4 linked regions of the Homo sapiens genome follow. The protein of the gene in region 1 interacts with the protein of each later gene in a biochemical or structural test. Each region holds a gene or a part of one and is shown in the gene's direction. Other genes may lie near its edges. The genes, in order: MYLK, PAK1, CTTN and CALM1.

Region 1 (3,881 bases):
TGCTGAACTTTGCAGAGATATGACTAATGCATAAAGGCTCATTGGTGAGGTCCATTTCCAATTGTCCATAGGCAAATTACCTGCTTTGGATCAGACTAAGACAAATATTGCTTTCTTCTTCTTAGCAATATTATCAGCTCTTTTAAATTATGTTTTATATAGCTGTTATTAGCTTTATTCAGTTATAATTTATATACTATAAAATTCACCTATTTTAAATGCACAATTCAATTATTTTTAATGAATTTATACCACAATCCAATTTTAGAACATTTTCATCACTCCAAAAAGATCCCTTGTTCCCATTTTGTTTTGACTCTTATTTTTCATTTAAATTATTTCACTTAAACTATTATACAAAATTGAAAATTTAGGCTGGGCATAGTGGCTCACGCCTGTAATCCCAACACTTTGGAAGGCCAAGGCAGGCAGATCACTTGAGTCCAGGAGATCAAGACCAGCCTGGGCAACATGGTGAAACCCTATCTCTACAAAAAATACGAAAATTAGCTGGGTGTGGTGGTGTGTACCTGTAGTCTGAGCTATGCAGTAGGCTGAGGTGGAAGGATCACTTGAGCCTGGACATTGGAAGTTGCAGTGACCCGAGATCATGCTGCTGCACTCCTGCCTAGGCAACATAGTGAGACTCTGTCTCAAAAAAAAAAAAAGATAGAAAATTGTATTTTCGGCCGAGCACAGGTAGCTCACACCTGTAATCCCAGCACTTTGGGAGGCCAAGGCAGGCAGATTACCTGAGGTCAGGAGATACAGACCAGCCTGGTCAACATGCTGAAACCCTGTCTCTACTAAAAATACAAAAATTAGCCGGGTGTCGTGGCGTGCACCTGTAATCCCAGCTACTCAGAAGGCTGAGGCACAAGAATCACTTGAACCAAGGAGGCGGAGGTTACAGTGAGCCAAGATCACGCTACTGCACTCCAGCCTGGGCGACAGAGTGAGACTCTGTCTCAAAAAAAAAAGGAAAAAGAAAATTGTATTTTCAATCTAAGAAGGTATTCAGATCTAGGTGTAGAGTTGGAATTGGAGCAGTATTTCAGGTAGTACTCTATTTTTAATTTTTATTTTTTTGCCATGTTGGCCAAGCTGGTCTTGAACTCCTGCCCACCTTGGCCTCCCAAAGTGCTGGGATTACAGGTATGAGCCACCATGCCTAGCCTCAGGTAGTACTCTATGTCTGTTTAAAGATGGGTGGGTGTGGTGGCTCACACCTGTAATCCCAGCACTTTGGGAGGTCAAGGTCAGAGGATCACTTGAGCCCAGGAGTTTGAGACCAGCCTGGGCAACATAGGGAGACCCTGTCTTTACAAAAAAAAAACTTTTTAAAAAATTAGCCAGGCATGGTGGCATGTACCTATAGCTCCAGCTACTTGGGAGGCTGAGGGAGGAGGATCACTTGAGCCCAGGAAGTTGAGGCTGCAGTGAGCCATGTTCATGCCACTGCACTCCAGCCTAGGTGATAGAATGAGACCCTGCCCCCCTACCCCCCAAAAAGTGAAAGGTGTGATGTTTAACTGAGCACGGTCGCTCATGCCTATAGTCTCACTACTCAGGAGGCTGAGAAGGGAGGATCGTTTGAGCCCAGGAATTTGAGCAACAGTAAGCTACGATCATGCCACTACACTCCAGCCTAGGCAACAGAGTGAGACTCATCACTTTAAAAAAATAAAAAAACTATTAAATAAGTTTTTTAATAGGTGGGATGTGGTGCTAGTCCAACATGTGTGGGAAATGGAACAACTTTAAAATATTCTATTTGGGGTTTCAGATATTGGTATTTACAAGACATGTCCATATTCTAATGTAGATATCAAAACAGTCGATAAAGGCCAACATCAAAATTTTCTCCTTAACCACCTTAATCAATAGTGGTAGCTTACAAGTTGCTTGCATGAGTTGATAAGAAATTTTGAATAACAGTTCCTGCAACTTGTGTTCTCTCCCTGTGATGCAGGATACCCAGACCCCGAGGTTGTCTGGTTCAAAGATGACCAGTCAATCAGGGAGTCCCGCCACTTCCAGATAGACTACGATGAGGACGGGAACTGCTCTTTAATTATTAGTGATGTTTGCGGGGATGACGATGCCAAGTACACCTGCAAGGCTGTCAACAGTCTTGGAGAAGCCACCTGCACAGCAGAGCTCATTGTGGAAACGATGGAGGAAGGTGAAGGGGAAGGGGAAGAGGAAGAAGAGTGAAACAAAGCCAGAGAAAAGCAGTTTCTAAGTCATATTAAAAGGACTATTTCTCTAAAACTCAAAAAAAAAAAAAAAACTCAAGATAGTAAAAGCACCTAGTGTGATAGATTATCGGTTAGGTCATTTGTGGGTTGATTCTTCAGAAACAGCAGTTGATACCTAGCAGCGTTATTGATGGGCATTAATCTATGTTAGTTGGCACCTTAAGATACTAGTGCAGCTAGATTTCATTTAGGGAAATCACCAGTAACTTGACTGACCAATTGATTTTAGAGAGAAAGTAACCAAACCAAATATTTATCTGGGCAAAGTCATAAATTCTCCACTTGAATGCGCTCATGAAAAATAAGGCCAAAACAAGAGTTCTGGGCCACAGCTCAGCCCAGAGGGTTCCTGGGGATGGGAGGCCTCTCTCTCCCCACCCCCTGACTCTAGAGAACTGGGTTTTCTCCCAGTACTCCAGCAATTCATTTCTGAAAGCAGTTGAGCCACTTTATTCCAAAGTACACTGCAGATGTTCAAACTCTCCATTTCTCTTTCCCCTTCCACCTGCCAGTTTTGCTGACTCTCAACTTGTCATGAGTGTAAGCATTAAGGACATTATGCTTCTTCGATTCTGAAGACAGGTCCCTGCTCATGGATGACTCTGGCTTCCTTAGGAAAATATTTTTCTTCCAAAATCAGTAGGAAATCTAAACTTATCCCCTCTTTGCAGATGTCTAGCAGCTTCAGACATTTGGTTAAGAACCCATGGGAAAAAAAAAATCCTTGCTAATGTGGTTTCCTTTGTAAACCAGGATTCTTATTTGTGCTGTTATAGAATATCAGCTCTGAACGTGTGGTAAAGATTTTTGTGTTTGAATATAGGAGAAATCAGTTTGCTGAAAAGTTAGTCTTAATTATCTATTGGCCACGATGAAACAGATTTCAACTGATAAAGAGCTGGAGAACTCCATGTACTTTGGAATCTCCTCCAAGATAGCCAGAGTTTAATACATCTTCATTCTCAACACTCTCCAAAGAACTTGACCTACCTTATGGGTTCCATATTTTTCTTCTTAAATGTGCATCAATCATGCCTTGCCCCCAACCTTTAAATATATTCTTAGACCTGGTAAATGCACTCAGACTTGCGTCTTTAGGAATTTTTAACTTTCTTTCACTACATTGGCACTTAAATTTTTTCTTTATAAAGCTTTTTGAAGGTCATAAACAAAGACCATAATTGATGATAGACCTAATACATTTCCTCTGTGTGTGTGTGTAACATTCCAAATACTTTTTTTTTCTTTTCCACTGTTTGTAAGGTGCAACAATTTAATATTTTTAAGGGACTTTTTAAGAGTTCCTTAAGAACCAATTTAAAATTACTTCAGTGCAATCCTACACAGTATCAACATTAGAATTTTGATATTAGTCTTATGTTATCTTCCATTCTATTTTTATCTGCTTTTTGCTGCTAGTTTCAAACTGCCAGTATTTTTCCTTTTGCTTTTAAAATAGTTACAATATTTTTCATGATAGCCACAGTATTGCCACAGTTTATTATAATAAAGGGTTTTTATTTGATTTAGCGCATTCAAAGCTTTTTTCTATCACTTTTGTGTTCAGAATATAACCTTTGTGTGCGTGTATGTTGTGTGTGTGCATGTGTGGCGTATATG
Region 2 (4,489 bases), on another chromosome or scaffold:
TGCTCTGTGGATGTTCTAACCTCACATCTAGGAGAGGTTCCCCTATGCTAACAAAGGCTGGTCTTGCCAAAATTTTGCACTAATAATGCAGGTATACACACGGTCTGTGATTGAACCACTTCCTGTCACTCCAACTCGGGACGTGGCTACATCTCCCATTTCACCTACTGAAAATAACACCACTCCACCAGATGCTTTGACCCGGAATACTGAGAAGCAGAAGAAGAAGCCTAAAATGTCTGATGAGGAGATCTTGGAGAAATTACGTAAGGAATTTGTAGCTTTCTGAACCTTTCTTCGTTTTATGACTGGTCAAGCACAGAGATTTGCTGGTCGTAGGCTTGGTCCATGCAGCTGGCTGGCCATGCTTGGTACCTTAGGCACAGACTGCTTCTCCTCACCCTGCCCCTGAACCTCCCTTCCCTGTCTCACAGCCCTGGTTGGATACTATGTTAGGATGGAGATGTGGTGAGAGTGTGGATAGCTTACTTTGAGGGCAGGGCATCCCTCACCCCTAGGCATGTATTATAGCGAAGACAAATAGTTTTTCTCTAATGAATAGCCTAGAATGCCATGTTGAGAAAGACTGAGGACCTAGTGGAAAAGGGCACTGTGATCAATTATTGATGTTTTGCCATTGACCTAGGAGAAGACGCATCTGCCATCTTGGTTGTAGGAAAAGAGGGAAGGGAAGTTAACATTTTATGAACCTATAGTATGTATCAAATGACAAGCAAAATATTTTCTTGATTTTTTTTAAATTTAATTCTCTTATTAACCCTGTGAAGAAAAGCATTATGATCCTAATTTTTGCAATGAAGATATCTGAGGCTCAGGGAGGCTAAATATCCTGCCCAAAATCACGCAGCTAAAAAGTGACATGGCTGAGGTTAGAACACAGTTTTTGTTCCTGTAAGTAGAGCATACTGCCTCTTGCTGTCAAGTGGAAACTTCCATTTTACTTTCTTTAGCTGCCAGAAATGGGGGTATGTTAGGGTAGCTTATTTCTGTGTTTCAGTAAACTGCAGAAGAATTCATGTTAGAAGGAAGAACTAGGTTGATCTGTGGGCTTGGAAGAATCATTTGACAAGGGCTTTAATTTATTCACTGTATCTACTTACTTCCAAAAAGGATTTGATGTGACCGATTTGGCGACGTCTGCAAACTGGCATTGCTTTGTGGTTCTCTAGTTCTTCCTGATTAATTCCTATATGACTTTAAAACAAATTTTCACTGTTTTAAAAATTGCCCTTTTCTGGATCCCTCATAAAATGACAAAGTAAGAAAAGCCACTTACCTAGTCATCTGTTTACTCCTGTATGTAGTCTTGTTCTCTAAACCAGAGTTTTTTGTTTTGTTTTGTTTTAACAATAACACTTAGAATTATGACTTAGAATTAAGACTTGGCCTGGGAGTTAGGACACTTGAGTTGAAGCTTCTGCTCAGCCACTGACTTGTGTCTTAGGCAATTTTCTACTGTTCTCTAAACCTCATTTTTCTCATTTTTAAAATAGGGATGTTAATACTTGTCTCATTTGCAAATCAAATGAGGTAATATATGTGAAAAGTACCAATTCCTAGTAATTGGGTATTAATGGAGAGCACATTGGACCGGGAGACTAAAAATGAAACTCCTAATCTTAGCTCTGACACCAATTTGCTGTGTGACCTTGGGGGGGAAGTATCTTCTTCCCTTCTGTGGGCCTCAATTTCTCCATCTCTAAAATACAAGTTATAAAACCCAGTGGAAAACCTCTATGTCGTTGCACTTGAAATATTCTTTGTTGTAAACCTCTTCTCTACTTTATCTCTCTGGCTTTTACTTAAAGTGGAAATCAGTCCATATATCACCTTTCTGAAGTTTTTCCAGTCTTTTTTTTGTGTGTGTGTGCCTCTTTCTGTACCCCTTTGGCTTTTATCACAGCAATTATTATATTTTCATGGAACTTTATGCTTACTTATCTGTCTCCTCCATGAAATTGACCTTCTTGAGAGCAGGGACTGCCTTGACTGTGTCATATCTCTTCATTCCTAACACAACATATGGCTTGGTGCGTATTAAATGAGTAAATATTTACTGAATGGATTAATTAAAAAATGAATGACTTTTAGGAGTTTAGAAATGGAATAGCTTACTATGAATCAAAGCAGTCAAGGTGATGAAACTTTTGGTTGAGACTTATGGGGGAAAAGCTGAGGGCCTGTTTAGCATGCTTTTTGGCTATTGGAGGTAGTTCTTTAACCCTTGCCAGCTACAGGGGTTGGGGAAATGTGGAACCTTTTTTGTATCTTGATTTGGGAAAAAATGATTCATGGTCTCTGTTTCTTTCAAAGGAAGCATAGTGAGTGTGGGCGATCCTAAGAAGAAATATACACGGTTTGAGAAGATTGGACAAGGGTTAGTAGGGGCATTTTCTTTCCCTGGAGAAATGACTTTAAAGTGTGTGTGCCGGCATATATGATTTTGCTTTTTTTTTGCCTCTCATAAACCTTGTTCTTCTTTCTCCACTTTACCCCTCACCCATCTGGAGTTGTTATGTGAGACTGACTTGAGATTTGGCAGAATTATGCTTAATATGAGAGAGATGCCATTAGCTGACCATGTTGCTAAAAATACCCCTGCAGTGACAGTGAGAGAACGGTTTTTTTTCTTAGCACAAAACCAACTTCCCAAATTACAACTCTGCTTTTCCGGATGAACCCTGTTTGTCCTAGTGCTGAGATCCACCAGCACTAATATAAAATGGAAGACCCAAAACTATAAATCCTTCTACTACTGTGATAGGACCTGTTTTTCTAGGTAGATGCCAGAATTTATCCTTCTTGCATTCATCCTTCTCTGTATCTTATATGCTGCCCTCAGTGTAATGAATTCAGCAAGTCTTAACTGAGTTCCTATTGTGTGCAAGGCACTATGAATTCAGAGACAATCTCTGCTTCCAAGGACCTCAAGTCAACAGAAAAAGATAGGCAAACAATTGTATAGTCATATGTTGCCTAACAAAGGGGATATGTTCTGAGAAGTGCATCCTTAGGCAGTTTTGTCATGTGAGCGTCATAGAGTGAACACAAAACTAAATAGTATAGCCTACTACACACCTAGGCTATATGGTATAGCCTCTTGCTCCTAGGCTACAAGCCTGTACAGCATGTTACTGTACTGAATACTGTAGGCAATTATAACACAATGGTGGTTGTATATCTAAACATAGAAAAGATACGGTAAAAATACAGCATAAAAGATAAAAAAAAGGTATATTTATGTAGGGCACTTAACATGGATGGAGCTTGTAGGACTGGAAGTTGCTCTAGGTGAGTCAGTGAGTGGTGAGTGAATGTCGAGGCCTAGGACATTACTGTGTACGCTACTGTAGACTTTATAAACCCTGTACACTTAGACTGTACATTTATTAAAAAACAAAGTAATTGTGCTATGACGTTACAACTGCTACAGTGTTACTGGGTGATAGGAATTTTTCAGCTCCATCATAATCTTATGGGACCACCATCATATGCGGTCCATCGTTGACTGAAACGTCGTTATGTGACACATGACTGTCTTGTGTTTTTAAAGTGTTTGGCTGTTATTTTGAGTGAAAGAAGCTAGATATGAAAAAGCAGATACTGTCTCATTTGATTTATATGAAATTCAAGAACAGGCAAAAGTAATATATGATAATAGAAGTCAGAATAGTGGTTATTTCTGGGAGGAGGATGTAGAGTGGGAATAGGCATGAAGGAATCTTCGGGGGTAATGACTGTAGTGTCTTTTGAAAGTGGCCATTATTTTGAGTGAAAAAAGCCAGATATAAAAGAGCAGATACTATGTCATTCTATTTATATGAAATTCAAGAACAAGCAAAACTAATGTATGATAATAGAAGTCAGAACAGTGTAGTTATTTCTGGGAGGAGGATGTTGAGTAGGAATAGTCATGAGGGAATCTTTGGGGGTGATCTTGGTAGTGAACACATGGGTGTGTACATATATAAAAATCAAGTTGTACACTTAAGATTTGTGCAAATTAAGTTATACCTCTCTATAAAAAAAAAATGAGATTTCTAAAGACCCACCAAAAGAGATAAAATTAAAAAGAAACTGAAAAAGAAAAATGTCTGGCTCTCAGTGTTAGTGGAATGAAAGCATTGTTGCTAATGATGTCATTGAAATTTTCTTTTTTTTTTTAAATTATACACCCAAGAATTTCTGAAAATAAAAGATTGCATAATATAGGGAGGTTCTGTTTATACAGCATTCTACAGTTCACATCTGTTATTTGCATTTATTGTTTAATCCTCAGAACAACTCTGGGCTTGAGTGGATCTTATTTTTTTCTAGTTCCAGTGTTTTTCAAAATAGACATACTTTTGTGAGTTTGAACTGGTGTAAGGTATTTAACACCTTGAGAAAAAAATTATTTTGCTTACCTCAGAGTAATGTGGGATGGTATTTCCTTTAGGTAGTGAAATTGAGATATTAAGAATGTAGC
Region 3 (4,489 bases), on another chromosome or scaffold:
CTGGGGGACTGCAGAGAGGGGCATCTGCCTCCCAGGATGCTCTGAGAGCCTGGGCTCTCAGAGAGAGGAAGCAGGATGCGGCGGGCTTGCTGTAGCAGTCCCTGCGGTCGCTCTTCACTACGTGCCTCAGTACTGGATGGCCCTGTGTCTGTCCCAATGTGCCAGCAGGGACCGTTTCCACCCGTGTTTCTCACATGTGTGTTACTGTGACAGAGTGACATCAGAGCCTATACCGGGGGGGCAGGATGCGCTCGTGTCCAGGACCCAGGCTTTGCGTCCAGGTGTTGTTGCAGTCATCCTAGGCCCGAGCCTCTTTGATTCTCTTCGGCTCGGGTCTGTTGGCTCTTTTGTTTAATAGAGGAGCGATCAGGAGCCTGGAGGGAGCAGGGAGCTGATGCTGGTCGCAGATTGTGGCTTTGTGACATATTAGCCACGGTTCTGAATTTATGTGTCTGTGAAAGGAGGATGATCATACCTATCTCACGGGTGTTTGCTCAGATGCCCATCGCAGTGCCTGGCTGGTGGGAGTGCACCCCTGGTGGCCACTGCTATTCTCATTACTAATACTAATGTTCTCAGCATGACTTATTTGAGAAGCGAGTTTTTGTGAAGCCCGTGGAATGAATCAGCTGAGCATTCCCTGCTGCCGCATGCTGGGGAGGGCAGGTCACCAGGGATATGGCTTGGCCTGCGCCGCCCACTGGGCCTTGCAGTGGGCCTGTCCGTTTAGGATGCCAGAGCTCTTGCGTCACTGCCACCTGCACCTGGCTTAGGAACCCAGAGGTCACAGCATCATGTGTTTCATATTTTTTTAAATGTCATGTCATGAATTCAGAGAGATTGTTTCAGGGACATTGGAAAGTATTTCTCCCCACTTTTTCATGTGTTTTTGGTCGTCACAGTCTGCTGTAGGCTTTGAATACCAGGGGAAGACTGAGAAGCATGCCTCCCAGAAAGGTAAGACGCGAAAGGTGCAGAAAGAGCCCGCTCCGGGGGCCCCGATGGGGAGAGTCACAGCCACCTGAAGCCGTTTCCCCGCGCTCCGGGGGCCCTGATGGGGAGAGTCACAGCCACCTGAAGCCGTTTCCTGAGCGGTGGCTGTTGCCACAAGGAGGACTCTGCCCTCCTCTTCATGTTTCTGGATCATCTGGATACCACATGATGGATGTATTCCCCGTTACACATCCCCCTCGGAGCCCTGGCATCTGCTGTCATTGTGGGGCTTCTCCCCCTTGTAGCGGAAGCCGCCTTCCCTTCATCTGGGCAGCGCTCCTCCTGGAAAAGAGAGCTCACAGATTGATCGGCAGAAAGCTAACTTCCCCCCAAGGCTAGAAACCAGAGTTGTTAAATTCTTGTTTTCCTTATACACATACGGTCTTAACTGCTGGTGATTAATCTTGATTACATCATGCAGTCTCTTTTTTGAAAGACCAAAGCATATCGCCACCTTAAAGTTCTCAGTTTATTTTTTGCAAGCTTATTTAGTTCTTCCTCCTTTGTGTCATTGCATCATCCGCGGAACAAGCTCTCAGTCCTTACGCAGTCTCGGTGCAGTCTAGGTGGAGGTAGCTGTGGTGTGGGCAGGCGGAGGATCAGGGTCTTGTCTCCCATGTTCAGCTGCATGGCTTTCTTCATATGAGGCTTTCTCTTTCCATTTTTTTCATTTTGTTTTGTTTGTTTGTTTGTTTTGAGACAGAGTCTCGCTCTGTTGCCCAGGCTGGAGTGCAGTGGCACGATCTCGGCTCACTGCAACCTGCGCCTCCTGGGTTCAAACGATTCTCCTGCCTCAGCCTCCCAAGTAGCTGGGATTACAGGTGTGTGCCACTACCCCTGGCTAGTTTTTCTATTTTTTAGTAAAGATGGGGTTTTGCCACGTTGGCCAGGCTGGTCTCAAACTCCTGGCCTCAAGTGATCCGCCCACCTCAGCCTCCAAAGTGCTGGTTCTTTGTATGAAGCTTTCCAGCTTTTACCTGAGCAGTTGATTTTCAAAGTGGGCATGCAGCGTCATTTCTGACTACACAAAGGAACTGCCCTGTAACAGCTGACAGGGCCCAGAACCCCCCCATGCACCTGTTGTGAAACAGGGTCCAGCGTCACCTGTATGGAGCAGTGGGTGGCTTGTTGTACATTTTAAAATGTGCGCTTGATGTGTTTGTGAGTTGTAACCCCTACACACTTTTGCTTAGTTTAACAAAAGGAACAGTGTAGTTCGTCCTCAGGCCCCCGTGCTAATTGCTGCCCTGTCTCTCCAGACTACTCCAGTGGTTTTGGCGGCAAGTATGGCGTGCAGGCCGACCGAGTAGACAAGAGCGCGGTGGGCTTCGACTACCAGGGCAAGACGGAGAAGCACGAGTCACAGAGAGGTGGGGCGGACCCCACGGTCTGTAATCACGCGTTTGCTCCAGAAACACCCACGAGGGCATTTTCTCTCTGCACACGTGATTGTTGTAGATTTTTTAACTGAAAATGTTTGGTGTTCTTTTCGTACCAGTGTATGTGGGCTTTTCCTAATTCGAATGGCTGCACAGTTCCCCATCGTATGAGGATTCCATAGTCCATGTAACCATTCCTTTTTTGAATGTGGAATTTAGGTTATTTATTTATTTATTTATTTATTTTTGGTAGAGATGAGGTCTTGCCGTGTTGCCCGGACTGGTCTTGATCTCCGTGGTCTCAAGCAATCCTCCCCCACCTTGGTTTCCTTAAGTGCTGGGATTACAGGTGTGACCTGTAAATTTTTTTTTTTTTTCTTTTAGACGGAGTCTCGCTCCGTTGCCCAGGCTGGAGTGTAGTGGCGTGATCTCTGCTCACTGCAACCTCCACCTCCCTGGTTCAAGCAATTCTCGTGCTTCAGCCTCCCGGCTAGCCGGGATTACAAGCACACGCCACCACGCCCAGCTAATTTTTGTATTTTTAGTAGAGACGGAGTTCTGCCATGTTGCCCAGGCTGGTCTTGAATTCCTGACCTCAGGTGATCGCCCTGCCTTGGCCTCCCAAAGTGCTGGGATTACAGGTGTGAGCCACTGCGCCCAGCTGAAACTTGACTGCAGGGAACATTCTTGTACCTGTGTTTTGTTCACAAGTGATTATTCAAAAGAATCAACTCCTAGACATGGAATTGCTGGGTCGAAGGCTATTGAATGTAAAATTTCCATAGATACTGCCAAGTTGTCCTTGGAGGCTGTGCTGAGTTCTTCCTTCCCCACTGCATAGCCTGTACACCATCACTCAGAGCGTTTCCCAGGGCTGCAGAGGCTGTGGCCTGCCTGTTTCCCTGTGCCTCTTGTTTGGCCTGCACATTTAAATTTTTAAAAATATTTGCCAACATTTGAAAAGTGAGAGCTTGACTATTTAAAAACTCAAAAAAAAAAAAAATTACCCCAAAGCAAGAAACACCACTGGAAGATCCGACCATGCTGGCTTGGCATTTCCCTGAGGAAAGTGCCGGTGGCCTGGAGGGCAGCTTGGCTTGTAGTTTGTCGCGGCCTGGCCTGGCCTTGCCTTCCTGCCGGTCAGGCCTTGCCTGCCGCACAGAGCTGCTTGCCTCTGCTCTCTGCCTCTTTCCTGGGAACAGTCCATTCCTCCTCTTCCCGACACCACACAGTTGTGAGCAGCGCATGCTCCGCGAAGCTGCATGAGTGTGTGACTCCAGGGAGCCAGGGAGCACAGGCCGAGCACCTGGGCAGACGCAAGGCTCCTTGGATGCTTCAGGCCTTCTCTCCCAGGCCTTGATCCTCTGCCTTGTGCTGTTAGTGGGTCCATGAGAGAGTCATGTTTTGGTGTCACAGTGACATGCTAAATGGCTTCATTCTGAGTAGAACTGAAGTTTCTGGAGGATGCTGTGTGTGTCCTATTTCCTGGCATCCCCCTGCGTGCTTCAGTTTGTGAAGAGTGGCCTTTGAAAGCCTTGCCCTTCTGCTGCCTCCTGAGCTTAGAGCCTTATCATAAACTCTCATCTCCTGCTAGCTTCTGGATGCAATGGATGATGTTACAGGAATTCATCTGCTGTACTTTATTTCTTTTTTTTTTTTTTTTGAGACGGAGTCTCTCTCTCTCGCCAGGCTGGAGTGCAGTGGTGCGATCTCAGCTCAGTGCAACCTCCTCCTTCCGGGTTCAAACAATTCTCCTGCCTCAGTCTCCTGAGTAGCCGGGATTACAGGCATGCACCACCAAGCCCAGCTAATTTTTGTATTTTTAGTAGAGGCGGGGTTTCACCATGTTGCCCAGGATGGTCTTGATCTCTTGACCTCATGATCCGCCCACCTTGGCCTCCCAAAGTGCTGGGATTACAGGTGTGAGCCACTGTGTCCAGCCTCTGCTGTACTTTAAAAAAAAAAACTTTTTTTCTTAATTCTTTTTTTTTTTTTGAGATGGAGTTTCACTCTTGTTGCTCAGGCTGGAGTGCAGTGGCGCAATCTCGGCTCACTGCAACCTTCACCTCCTGGGTTCCAGTGATTCTTCTGCCTCAGCCTCCCGAGTAGCTGGGATT
Region 4 (4,489 bases), on another chromosome or scaffold:
GTGGACTGAATGATAACCTTTTCTTTCTTCATATAGGCTGATCAGCTGACCGAAGAACAGATTGCTGGTAAGTTGACAACTCCAAGGAGTCCCCAGAAGGCCAGAACTAGGCACTGACTCAGTTTTGGTGACTCCTCTGTTCCTCCCCGCTACAGTCTGGGCAGTTTTCTAAGAATTTATTTAAATAAGAACAGTAAGCAGAAACACTGAGGTCAGATGTTATTCTTGCCAGTACTTTATAGATGAGGTGAAAGGAAGTAAAACTAAGGATGCCCACATGTTAAACTCTGGAGAATTTGACCATGTTTCACAATGTGCAAAGTTTGCGTATGATTAATTGTACTGAGCCTGCTACTCAGCGGTTTAGTTTACAATTCTTATGCCATGGGTCTTTCAGTAATCTGCCACGAAAGCTTGTGCTCGCTATCCTAAAATAAATGGAAATGGGTGAATATGAGTGTTAGGACCACTGTAGTAATTGGGAAGAAAGTTACATTAGTTAAACTCTGTTGCCCAGGCTGGTCTCTAACTCCTGGGCTCAAGCAATCCTCCTGCCTCAGCCTCCTGAGTAGCTGGGACTACAGGCATGTGCCACCACGTCTGGCAGATTTTAGCTTTTTAATATTCCTGGAGGACTTGTTTTGAGACTGTTTCTCGTTAGGAAACCAGGAATGCTTCTGAAATATTCTAAAAGTCATGTGGAGAGAGTTTACCTGGGAATGTACATTTCTAGTAACCATTTTATTTGTTATGAAACAAGGGATTCTTATGGCTTTAGAAATGTAACAGGAAGGGATTTGAAGGGGGCACATGGACCAATCTTGTCAGATTGGATTTAGTCCCTTGAACCTGGGAGGCAGGGGTTGTAGTGAGCTGAGATTGCACCACTGCACTCCAATCTCGGTGACAGAGCGAGACTCCATTGTTTAAAAAAAAAAAAAAAGATTGGATTTAGGACTAATTTAAGCATGTTCCAGCTTAGCCGCCTTGAAACCTTTGGGAATATTGTGGTGTGTGGCACTGTTTATTGGGAGCAGTGTTTGCTTTATGGGCTGCTGTATGAAGGCCAGTCCAACAGGACTATTGTGGTCATTATTTCAGTAGATAAAGACCAGACTTCTGATACGTTGCACAACTTGAATGGCTGGCTTTGGCAAGCCCCCGGCAAGTGTGTATTGTGACTGGGTTGGATAAAGACATTGATTCTAACGGGTCAACTTTTGTTTTCAGAATTCAAGGAAGCCTTCTCCCTATTTGATAAAGATGGCGATGGCACCATCACAACAAAGGAACTTGGAACTGTCATGAGGTCACTGGGTCAGAACCCAACAGAAGCTGAATTGCAGGATATGATCAATGAAGTGGATGCTGATGGTAAGAGCTTTAAAACCATGAATGAGGGCCATTGTTGTGTAATTCAAGTTCAGACATGTTACAGGATTGTCTTTCAGGTCCCCAGAGCAAAGCAAATGTGCAAAGATCCTTTCTGTGGTTGCCCCAGGGCCATTGACAATTAAAATAGAAGATGATGGGCCTTGCGTCCATCCTGCTTAGTGTCTAGAATGTTTTCTGCATGGGATCACTATTGTTTTCTTCCTGCTTGGTGCGACCTAGAGCTCAAATCTATTTTTTTTTTTTTTTTTGGAGACGGAGTCTCGCCCTGTCGCCCAGGCTGGAGTGGCACTGGCGCGATCTCGGCTCACTGCAACCTCTGCCTCTTGGGTTCCAGCGATTCTCCTGCGTCAGCCTTCTGAGTAGCTGGAATTACAGGCGTGTGTCGCCACGCCCAGTTAGTGTTTTGTATCTTTAGTAGAGATGGGGTTTCACCATGTTGGCCAGGCTGGTCTCAAACTCCTGACCTCGTGATCCGCCCTCCCCGGCCTCCCAAAGTGCTGGGATTACAGGCGTGAACCACTGCTCCTGGCCGAGCTCAAAGCTTTTATCAACTGGCCCATGAGTCTGCACTGAGTCTTGAGGGGGGAGGTGAAATTAAATAGCCATAGAAAGTGCTTTTTAACAAACTTACTGTGTTTAAAGAGGAGGAGGAACCCCCAGATGAAGTAGGTGACGAGCACTCTTAGAAGTTACCATAAAAGTGAGTACAGTGTGAGCTGTAGATGTGTTTGCTGCAGAGGAGCATGTGAGGTTTGGAGGCGGATGTGTGGTGACTCCAGGGGATAGATTTGCAGAACCTAACGGAAAGGGAAGCTGTAAGGTGCAGGGCCAGAGGGAACCAGCAGTAACCCTGATAGCGGTCTGTCATCTGTTCCTCTCGACTCTACAGCAGCGGACAACAGAACTTTGATTGCTGATTTCCATCAGTAAGCAGGCTTTGAAGCACACTTCCCCACCCCTAAAAAAAAACCACGTATTTTGGTAAATCCTATATATATTCTAATGTACTGTATGACAGTATAGAACATGATTTTTAAAAGATGAGTTGGGAGGAGAAAAGGATAAAAGAAAAAATAAAAGAAGCATTAAGAATAAACAATTCGGATCTAGATTTTACTTTCTAGATGATTGACTCGAGGGTGGTGTAGTAAAATCGCTTGTCTGGTCACAAACATTTGGCAGCAGAGCTTTTGATTAGGTTCTTTGACAAAGCCTTCAGCACGTTAGAGTGGTTTTCACTAATAGTGTTTTGGAAAGAAAAGGTTGTCCATAGTTCTCTAGTTTGCTAAGATGATCAGCTACCCAGGAACGTGGAGTAACTTCCTCTTGTTTGTGGGAGCCCCGGGAATCTGTGCCTGGGGAGGGGAGAAGTCTGTTAGGCTCTTGGATTGTGTGGAAGAAGGAGAAGTTGTGCCAGGCTACAGAATCCTGTGTTTGCACTGAGAAAACAGGATGGTACCTGACCTTCTCTGCATGGCTGTGAGATAGCTTAAAATAATTTCTTTTGTTTTTGATGAATATGAACAATATCTTAAAATTTTTGAGGCTAAAAAAGTCTTGAAGGGATCCCTGAGGTATTTTCTTTGAAAGGTACTGGTGAAAATGAGTAACTTAACCTAAGGGTTTTTCTTTCTAATTTTATTTCCATTTAGTTCAATGACACTGTTAGTCTGGAGTGCTTGTCTTTGGGGGTATTCATCTCTTAGTTTTAAAGAGGAGTTGTTTGGAGTACTGGCCGTAGAACAGATTGTTCTGACAGTTCCCTAAGTGTTACTAGTCTGAGCTGTGAGAATGCTCCTGAGCTTTTCCCTTAATGGGAAATAAAGATACTGAGTTGGAAGAAAACAGGTGGCTAACCATCATAGCGTGGCCAAGAAATGATCCTGGAGAAGACTTGGTAAGACTTCATGGCCCATGCATGGCATAACAGAATCAATGTTCCTCTCTCATAATCTTTTCTCCTCTGAAACACTTTATACACTTAACCTGCAGCTCAGTTCTAGGCCTTTTTTGTGTTACTGCTGTCACTAACCAAGGCAGAGTGAGACCTGAGTGATTTCCCTAACTCAGGGATGGCAGTCGGGGGCGCTTTCTTCCCTCGGAGTGGAAAGATTCAGCCTGCGGAGTGGTGTATGCTATTTTTCTCTTGAACTGTACAGCCCTTCATGACCCTTCCATGGGCTTGAATCCAGATGTGCAGTTTCCTTTGTATAATTAAATACTATCCTGGGCACTGATGATGAGTTTGAAATTATGTGAAATTGCCCTGTGAAGTGTTTGAACGTTTTAGACCTGCAGATGATTGAACCTAGTAAGATAGTCTGCCCCTTTGTCCTAGTACATGTTTACCGTTCCGTACAGTGGTTCTGAAATGATTACTGCAGAGCAGCGTTAATGGAGTGCTTACTTTACATGAGCTTTTTGTTTTTTAATTCGAGGTAATGGCACCATTGACTTCCCCGAATTTTTGACTATGATGGCTAGAAAAATGAAAGATACAGATAGTGAAGAAGAAATCCGTGAGGCATTCCGAGTCTTTGACAAGGTAATCCAGCATCTACATAGCAGATGGTACTTAAGTATGGCTTCTTCCGCTTTCACTTCTAAAAGCTATAATAATGTTATAGACAGAAGACTTAAATCTAACTGCCTGAGCCTCTGATCTCACTTTCAAAAATCCTCCTTATGGTAACCGTATCAGGGGAGGGTAGGCATAATAAATAGGAATTTTGGACCATGTTTCTTGACTGTTACTTTGAATTGTTGTGAGCTTTTGCAAATCCTGTTTTCTGCATTAGCTGTTTGCATGTATTTAGTAGGTTAGAGGTGGGAACTAGAGATCAGAGAATTGTTTATGGCAGCAGAGTTAGCAGTAACTTGAGAGGGCATAGCTAAGTCAAAGACCTACTTCCCCACACTACATCATTAGCAATAACAATTGCTGAATGTTCACAGGATGGCAATGGTTATATCAGTGCAGCAGAACTACGTCACGTCATGACAAACTTAGGAGAAAAACTAACAGATGAAGAAGTAGATGAAATGATCAGAGAAGCAGATATTGATGGAGACGGACAAGTCAACTATGAAGGTA

Evidence for each region.
Region 2: of the proteins of MYLK (region 1) and PAK1, one has a biochemical effect on the other in vitro, tested with the Homo sapiens proteins (one study listed by BioGRID).
Region 3: the proteins of MYLK (region 1) and CTTN form a complex in vitro, tested with the Homo sapiens proteins (one study listed by BioGRID).
Region 4: the proteins of MYLK (region 1) and CALM1 are reported together in a solved structure, tested with the Homo sapiens proteins (2 studies listed by BioGRID, with this or other methods).

What each region holds. Positions count from the first base shown.
Region 1 is NC_000003.12:123,612,441-123,616,321, reverse strand, and holds part of MYLK (myosin light chain kinase, smooth muscle), read left to right. Parts: intron 1-1,972; coding exon 1,973-2,217; 3' UTR 2,218-3,881. UniProt on the Homo sapiens protein: Calcium/calmodulin-dependent myosin light chain kinase implicated in smooth muscle contraction via phosphorylation of myosin light chains (MLC). Also regulates actin-myosin interaction through a non-kinase activity.
Region 2 is NC_000011.10:77,351,445-77,355,933, reverse strand, and holds part of PAK1 (serine/threonine-protein kinase PAK 1), read left to right. Parts: intron 1-91; coding exon 92-266; intron 267-2,334; coding exon 2,335-2,398; intron 2,399-4,489. UniProt on the Homo sapiens protein: Protein kinase involved in intracellular signaling pathways downstream of integrins and receptor-type kinases that plays an important role in cytoskeleton dynamics, in cell adhesion, migration, proliferation, apoptosis, mitosis, and in vesicle-mediated transport processes.
Region 3 is NC_000011.10:70,414,761-70,419,249, forward strand, and holds part of CTTN (src substrate cortactin), read left to right. Parts: intron 1-902; coding exon 903-957; intron 958-2,252; coding exon 2,253-2,363; intron 2,364-4,489.
Region 4 is NC_000014.9:90,400,029-90,404,517, forward strand, and holds part of CALM1 (calmodulin-1), read left to right. Parts: intron 1-36; coding exon 37-67; intron 68-1,230; coding exon 1,231-1,374; intron 1,375-3,833; coding exon 3,834-3,940; intron 3,941-4,350; coding exon 4,351-4,486; intron 4,487-4,489. UniProt on the Homo sapiens protein: Calmodulin acts as part of a calcium signal transduction pathway by mediating the control of a large number of enzymes, ion channels, aquaporins and other proteins through calcium-binding. Calcium-binding is required for the activation of calmodulin.